Homo sapiens: one gene and its partner. The protein of the gene in region 1 interacts with the protein of each later gene in a biochemical or structural test. Each region holds a gene or a part of one and is shown on either strand. Other genes may lie near its edges.

What was found. The genes of interacting proteins can lie anywhere in the genome.
Region 2: the proteins of F11 (region 1) and SERPINA5 form a complex in vitro, tested with the Homo sapiens proteins (one study listed by BioGRID).

Annotation. Positions count from the first base shown.
Region 1 is NC_000004.12:186,283,189-186,286,684, forward strand, and holds part of F11 (coagulation factor XI isoform 1 preproprotein), read left to right. Parts: intron 1-903; coding exon 904-1,072; intron 1,073-2,449; coding exon 2,450-2,625; intron 2,626-2,909; exon of another isoform or gene 2,910-3,078; intron 3,079-3,226; coding exon 3,227-3,322; intron 3,323-3,496. UniProt on the Homo sapiens protein: Factor XI triggers the middle phase of the intrinsic pathway of blood coagulation by activating factor IX.
Region 2 is NC_000014.9:94,580,009-94,584,225, reverse strand, and holds the start of SERPINA5 (plasma serine protease inhibitor preproprotein), read right to left. Parts: upstream 2,801-4,217; 5' UTR 2,736-2,800; intron 2,612-2,735; 5' UTR 2,516-2,611; intron 1-2,515. UniProt on the Homo sapiens protein: Heparin-dependent serine protease inhibitor acting in body fluids and secretions. Inactivates serine proteases by binding irreversibly to their serine activation site. Involved in the regulation of intravascular and extravascular proteolytic activities.

The DNA.
Region 1 (3,496 bases):
ATTTTGAGTCGCATAGGTGTGTGCGTGTGTGTGCGCATGTATGTGTGCGTGTGTTTGTGTGCACGTGTGTGTGTGTGTGTCTAGAATACTGCTGTCTACGAACACCCTATTCCCATCCATCTGTGTTCCATGGCTCCAACCGGGAGGGTGGGTTCTTGTGTCGGGCATCCAGTAAGTAGAAATAGAGGGCACTGTCCTGTCTAGGCAGCCCCAAGAGAAAAGAAACAGAGGGATGAGCCTGAGTCAAAGTCCCTGAAAAGTACCAAGGACCCCAGAGAATCCCAAACTGTCAACAAGGCCAAAGGTCAGAGGAAGTTCATAGCAGATCAGTCTTACTTTGGACGTGGGTGGAGCAGGAGTGACTGGGATCATGGTCAGCAGAGTCACTGGGACAGGGCAGGAACTGGACAATGGCTGCAGCCTGCGGGCAAGGTGCTTGCCTTTTCTTTCTAAGAGCAGTTCTCAAACGCCAGCAGGGCTGGTTCAAACACAGATGGCTGAGCTTCCAGGCTGGAGTTTCTCATTCACTGGATCTGAGGTTGGGCTGAAGAATGTGCATTTCTAACACGTTCCCAGGTGACGCTGTTGGTCTGGAGACTGCACTTGACAACCACTGGTTTAAAAACACCATTCACGTTATCATTTGAAGGAGGGTAAGACAGCCTTGTAGTACCACACAAGGAGGGCTACATTCTTAGGGGTGTGTAATTACAAGATGACTTAGTCAATTCCATTTTTCATGTGCATGTTTTGCTTTGGCAGCTTGATTATAAAGTCTCTGTAACTCAGGGTCATGATAAACTATTGACTTGAGGAAAGGTTTTCTTCTTGTTCCTGAAGGAGCATAATTACTGATGGAAAGGAAGATGTAGGAAGCTGCTCATCACAATGCTTCTGTTGCAGAGTGTACCACCAAAATCAAGCCCAGGATCGTTGGAGGAACTGCGTCTGTTCGTGGTGAGTGGCCGTGGCAGGTGACCCTGCACACAACCTCACCCACTCAGAGACACCTGTGTGGAGGCTCCATCATTGGAAACCAGTGGATATTAACAGCCGCTCACTGTTTCTATGGGTCAGTACCACGGCTGTTTTTATTAGTTCATCTTCTTCACACATTTATAAAAAATATTACTAGCATGTTAGGAAATAAATACTTTAACCAATTAGATTGTCTTATTTGCAAAATTAATTAATTGCTTCAGTGGTAAAAAACGCAAAAAGGAAGAGCTCATGGTCTCCCAGCATCAGAACAGGTGCAGGTACAAGGCTGCTTGACTGCCTGCTATTCCGCTTCCCATTTAACCGCATTCACATCCCCAAGGGCCTTCATGTTATTCCCTGCAAGAGCATACCTCCCTCTGTGCCTCGCTCTGTGCACTGTGCCCGGAACTAAACTCACAGAGGATTTACCATTGTCTGAATCAAATTTCTAATATGTGTGTGTGTGTGTGTGCGTGTGTGTTTAAATACAGAAAGTGGCCAGGTGTGGTGGTTCACGCCTGTCATCTCAGCACTTTGGGTGGCTGAGGTGGGAGGATTGCTCAATGCCAGGAGTCTGAGGTCAGCCTGGGCAACATAGTGAGACCTCGTCTCTAAAAAATATTTAAAAACTAGCCTGGCATGGTGTTTTGTGTGCCTGTAGCACCAGCTGCTCAGAAGTCTGAGGTAGGAGGATTGCTTGAGCCCAAGAGTTCAAGGGTGCAGTGAGTTACTACAGTGCCACTGTGCTCCAGCCTGAGCAACAGAGCAAGACCCTATCTCTAAGTAAATAAATAAAATACAGAACGAGTTCGGTATGCATCCTCACATTGGATTCCTTACTTAGGTCACTTTCAGCGTTGGCCAAACAAAAAGGCTCCAGCTGGGGGTATATATATTCCAGGGAAGTTAAGTTGGCCAAACTTTCCGTTTGCTACTTCAGTATCCTCCGAGTTGTTTCCAGACACAGTTTTGTGTGCTTTTTAGTTTTGGTTTTCTTTTTTAATCAATCTGCAGCACACTCATGTTAAACTCAAGAACACATGTGAGGCCAAGAGTTCCCGTTACCTGTCACATATGGGAATGGAGTAGCAGAAAGCCTAGTTTCTGTCACAGCTAGTTACTGGCGAGATTGAGACTGAGTCCAGCGGTCTTCGTGTGTGTGTGTGCGTGTGTGTCTGTGCAGTGTGCGTGTGTGTGCGTGTCTGTGTGTGCGTGTGCGGGTGTGTGCGTGTGTGTGTGTTGGAGCACGGAGGGAGTGCTCATTCATTTTTTGTGTATAATGGATTTTCTTTATAGGGTGAATATGTTTTTTATCCCGAAAAATCTTAGGATAAAATCACTTTTTTCTACCTAAATGTCCATCATTGGCAGAAAATATTAGTAATAATTAAACAGCCACACACTTCACAATGTCTGGGAATTATTTTTAGTAAAGGAAATTTCTTTCCCTCTGTTGTTTGCTCCTTAGGGTAGAGTCACCTAAGATTTTGCGTGTCTACAGTGGCATTTTAAATCAATCTGAAATAAAAGAGGACACATCTTTCTTTGGGGTTCAAGAAATAATAATCCATGATCAGTATAAAATGGCAGAAAGCGGGTATGATATTGCCTTGTTGAAACTGGAAACCACAGTGAATTACACAGGTACGGAGAATTTTATCCGGAAAGTTGTCTCCAATGGTGAACTGGATAAAATGTTTAACACTACTAGACTTACGGCCTGACCCTGCCAATCTCTCCATGCGTTATCATCATGAAAGGGAGAGGGCCTGGAATGCTAGTCATTCACTCTGCTAAGGCTGACACACTTTCCTGGCTATTGAAACTTATTTTGGGAATGTGGGTAAAGAGATACGTTTTCCTGAGTCTTCTTCAGGTGCATAGAATGACATAATTTCATAATACTTTGGAATAGTAAAGATAATTTAGTCTAAAGATAATTTATTAAAGATAATTTAGGGATGAAGGATTGAAGGTTAGAACAATTAAGCAACTTGTGCAGGATCAAAGTGAGTTGGATGAGGAGTTAGCGGTGAGGGTGAGGCTTGTCTCTCTCTCGCCCTCTCATCCTGGCACATGTGCGATATCGTGCTGAACCTGAGGGAGGAAAATACACGACAACAAGGCAAAAAATGAATATAGTAAACAAAGAAAACACAGATAATGTACAGTGGAAGAAGAGTCTCTTCTGGAAAAGAGGATATATTTTGCGTCTCATATTTAAACCACGATTTTTTAAATTTAGATTCTCAACGACCCATATGCCTGCCTTCCAAAGGAGATAGAAATGTAATATACACTGATTGCTGGGTGACTGGATGGGGGTACAGAAAACTAAGAGGTAAAAATGATGTTGTTATATGTGCTCCATCCTAGAAATGAAGAGCGGAACCTTTTCTGCCCTGTCAAGTCATGTAGCTGAAGCACAACTCGAGTCACACTACTCAGTTGCAGGAAGCGGATTAATAAAGATGGAGAGGCAAAAATCACCCAAGTGAGGCTGGTGCCTCATATG
Region 2 (4,217 bases), on another chromosome or scaffold:
TTGTTTCAGCTACTGAGTGATGGAACCGGAATTAAAATCCAGGTTCCTCTGACTCGTGCACAGCCTGTCTCTGAGTGGCTCTGAGGAGTGATACCTCGTTCCTCCTCGACCTCACCTCCTGGTATCCCCAGGCGGTTCACCTGTATTAGCTCATTTATACTTCTCTACAACAACATGGAGTTAGTATCATTATCCTAACAGTGCAGAAGAAACAGAGGGTCAGAGAGGTCACTCAAGAGGCAGTGGAGTCCTCAGTGCTTGTTTTACGTTTCTTAGTTTCAAATCCAGGGTTTGCCATCGCACTCTTGGGCCTCTGGTGGAAATACATGGCTTTGACAGAGACAGGTGAAGCCCTGGGAGCCTCCCATCCCCCAGACCAGCCTCTACTGAGTGCTTTGAAAGCTTGGTTGGGCTGCCCCTCTCCTGGTCCCTGGCTTTAGTGTTTCTGCAGAGGGAAGAGAGAGGATCAGTCATGTTCACCTGTCATCTCAGGCCAAGGTGAATTGAGGTGGGAGGTGGTGGGGATGTGATGGGTAGGCCCTGGTCAGTCTTCCCGCTGGCCCACCACCATCCCCGAAACCCAAATCTGCTGACTGATATTTCCCGTGTTGGGCAGTGAAGTCCTGCCCAGTTCTACCCTGGACTCAGCTGTGGGAATTGTGTTAGTGAGGACGGTCTGTCCAATATCTTCTAATTACAAAAAGGGATGTGAGGCTTGGAGCCCAGGCAGAGATGAGAGACAAAGTCACAGCTTCCTCTAGATCCTAAAGACCCAGGAACAGAACTTCCCAGAAGAAGTAATCTTGACTTCCTGTTCCACTCCAGCCCATCAGCAAAGCTTGTCCGTTCTATCTCCAAAACAGGTCTTAAAGCTGCCGCCTTTCCCTGGCTTTCTTACTGCCCCCAGTGGAAGCTCCCTTCATCTCCCCCAGGGCTACCCCAGTAGCTTCCTTTCTTTGCCCTGAAAGGCTTTCTATATACAGCATATAAAAGAATCTCCTTCAATCATAAATATGGTCACAGCGCTTCCTCGCCTAAGAAACTCATGGCCAACTCCTGTGTTTCAGATAAATGCTAAACTTTGATTTGTGCTCTAACCCACTAGGGCTGCTGTGACCTGGCTGCACCTGGCCTGGACCTGCTCTGCCCTGGATCACGTGATACCCCCAGGCTCACTCTTCTTTTCCCAGTTTCTCAAACACAGCAAGTTCTGTCCTAACTCTGGGCCTTTGCATACCTTCCCTCTCTACTGGAACCCTCCCCCAACCTTTCTCACTGAGGCCAACTTCTGCATAGGCTGCAGGCTTTTGCTTAAATGTCACTTCTTTGCAATACCTTATCACACTGGACCTTTTCCCCTTCCATGGCTATTCTCTGGAACAGTCCCTTGACTCTTTCTCTCAAAGCTCTTTCAATTACACATGTGCCTTTATATATGCATTTGTCATTGACATTTTTCATTCCGGCCTCTCTCTCCATGGGACCCTCATTTGTGCTGCTCTCACCTTCAAGAGCTTGCAGTCAGGAGAGATGCTCCATAAACCTTTGTAGAATGAATGAATGAATGAACTGACCAGTCTCCTTCTCTGTAATTCAGAGACATTAGACTGCAAGCTGGACACTGAGCAGTGGAAAAAGCCAGGCTGGCCACCCAGAGCTGAGCTCTCCCCGCCCCGGAGCTCACTTGCCAGGTGACCTTGAACAACTCCCTCCCTGTCTCTCAGCTCTGGCTTCCTATTATTTCTTTATTAAAACCACTTGATTGAGACATGACTGCTATTCATAAAGTTGCACATATTTAATGTCTATAACCTGACAAGTTTGGAGATGAGTCTACATCTGTCACTTATCATCACCGTCAGCACCATGAACACGTCCGTTACCTTCAGGCATCTGCCGCCTGTATTCTTCATGCTTCGGTTTCCTGATCTATGAGCAAGGACACTGGCCCAAGGAAGCAGTTTGCTCTTTTATTGCTGCATATCTGGCCAAAAGCCCTACCTTCAGAAAAACTAAAAATTCTGCTTACTTTATTTCTACATTTTGTTCATTTAACAAACTGCCAAATTGTTACTGTCCTTCATGAGCAGCTGCCATGACCGGCCTGGGTGGCAGCCTCCAGGCAAGATGCCCTTATCTCACGGAAGCCGATAATATTGGATCATTGTTCCTGATTTCTAAAGGCCCAAGACTCCAGGCACAGAAAACAACAGAAGCTGCCACTTACTGAGCACCTCCTATCCAGCCGACATTTTGTCCCCATGGCCTTATTTCAGGGTCTCTCAACCTTGATCCTGTTGACCTTTTGAACAGGATGATGCTTTGTGATCTTGTCCTGGGCATTGTGGGATCATCAGCAGCATCGCTGGCCTCTAGATGTCACTAACCCCCACCCCCCTTCCAGTTGTGGCAACCAAATGTGTCTGCAGACATGGCCAGATGTGCTGAGTGAGAGCACCCGCTGTATTTAATCTTCAGTCACACCATCCAGAGGGTGTAATTATTTCCATCTTACCTATGAGGAAACGGAGGCTCTGCCAGAGTTAGTGTGGAGCATAAGGTCACAGAGCTCGGGGGACCCACTCACCTCTGCTGCCTTGGATACCTGAAACTGCAGAGATGAGACTCCTTCAGAGCTTTGCAGACCCCAAACCCCAAAACTCTAGAGTCCATCCTCTCCTCGCCTCACATGCCCTCAAGCCCTGGGGACCTCCCTTTGCGGCATCGGTACTTACTGTGTCCCGTAGCTGAGTGTGCACACAGTGGAGGTGGCAGTCCCTCGGGCTCAGAAAGGGCAGAGGGCTGGCTGGATTGCAGCCAGCATTTGTCACTGACCACAGCCGGCCCTGTCTCCACCCCTCCCTGGCCCCGCCCCGGGACAGCCCCTTCCTTTCCTGGCAGGTTTCCGGCCAGCAGGCCTGCCTGCAGACGCAGCTCCCTGATCCCGAGGCTTTCACCACGATGCCCACTCGCTGCCCCCCAAGCCTTACACCACCAGCTGGGCCATCATTTTCCTGGAATGGCATGGGCACTCCTGAGAGACAAGACCAAAGAGCCTCCCTATTGTTGGCATTCCAGAGACAGGGAAAGGGACAGCTCTAGCAAACCCTCTCTTTTTCCAGGTTCTATTCCTTGGTTTTCTGCAGCTAATTTCTTGTAGATTAGGGGGGGCATATGCTTGAACCTGAGAGCTCCCCACAGGCCTGCTATGCTGACTGGGTCATAGATCCCAACAGTTAGATTCTAGTGGAAATGAGAGGGATTGAGAGACTCACCATGCCTGCAATGAATGGGTCACTGTAGCCAAGCCTGTGATTGCACCAATCACTGAATTGGGGCTCAGAAGAATGAGGGGAATTTTCAAAGTCATGCATTTAATTAGGGGCAGAGTGGGGTTGGTGCATAAGTGGCTGACTCCCAGGCCAGTGCTTGTTGCTGAGAAAGGAGTGGATTCAGGATTTCTATGGGCTTGGGTAGATTCTCCCTTTCTACTTTGAAATCCTGGTTCCCTAACTCAGCCATACACTCTTAAGAGCATTTCCAAGACACCGGTGCAGAGTGCTGTCTCAAGCCTGGTTATGTTTCTAAGGTCCCCTTGCCTGGGGGACATGGTGTGTTGTGCATGGCCGTGATCATGGAAGGTTATGTGGCTGCAGGTGGGGTGTGGAGTTGGTAGAGCAAATCAGAGGTAATACCTGGAAAGTGATTTTGATGTTCAGCAAACACTGTCCATCGACAACCTTTAAGACATTTCCTCTTCCTTCTTCATGGCTTTGGGGCCCAATTATGTGGCTGTTGGATATCCACAGAAATAATAAGAACTAGTATTTATTCACACTTTTAAAAAGACCACCTACTACACCAAGTGCTTTAAACGCATTATCTTTTTTCATCCTTACAATAACCCTTCAAGGGAGACACTGATCTCAGCCCAGTCTAGAGATGAGCACTGGGTATCTAGAGCTAAGTCCAGCTACTACTACATCTCTAGAAGCAAGCACAATACCTACTGGGTATCTAGAGGAAACACAATCACTACTGGGTATCTAGAACCAGGCATGATCACTTCTGGGTATCCAGAAGCAGGCAGGATCACTACTGTAGGATATCCAGAAACAGGCGGGATTGCTACTGTAGGATATCCAGAAACAGGCAGGATCACTACTGTAGGATATCCAGAAACAGGTGGGATTGCTACTGTAGGATATCCAGAAACA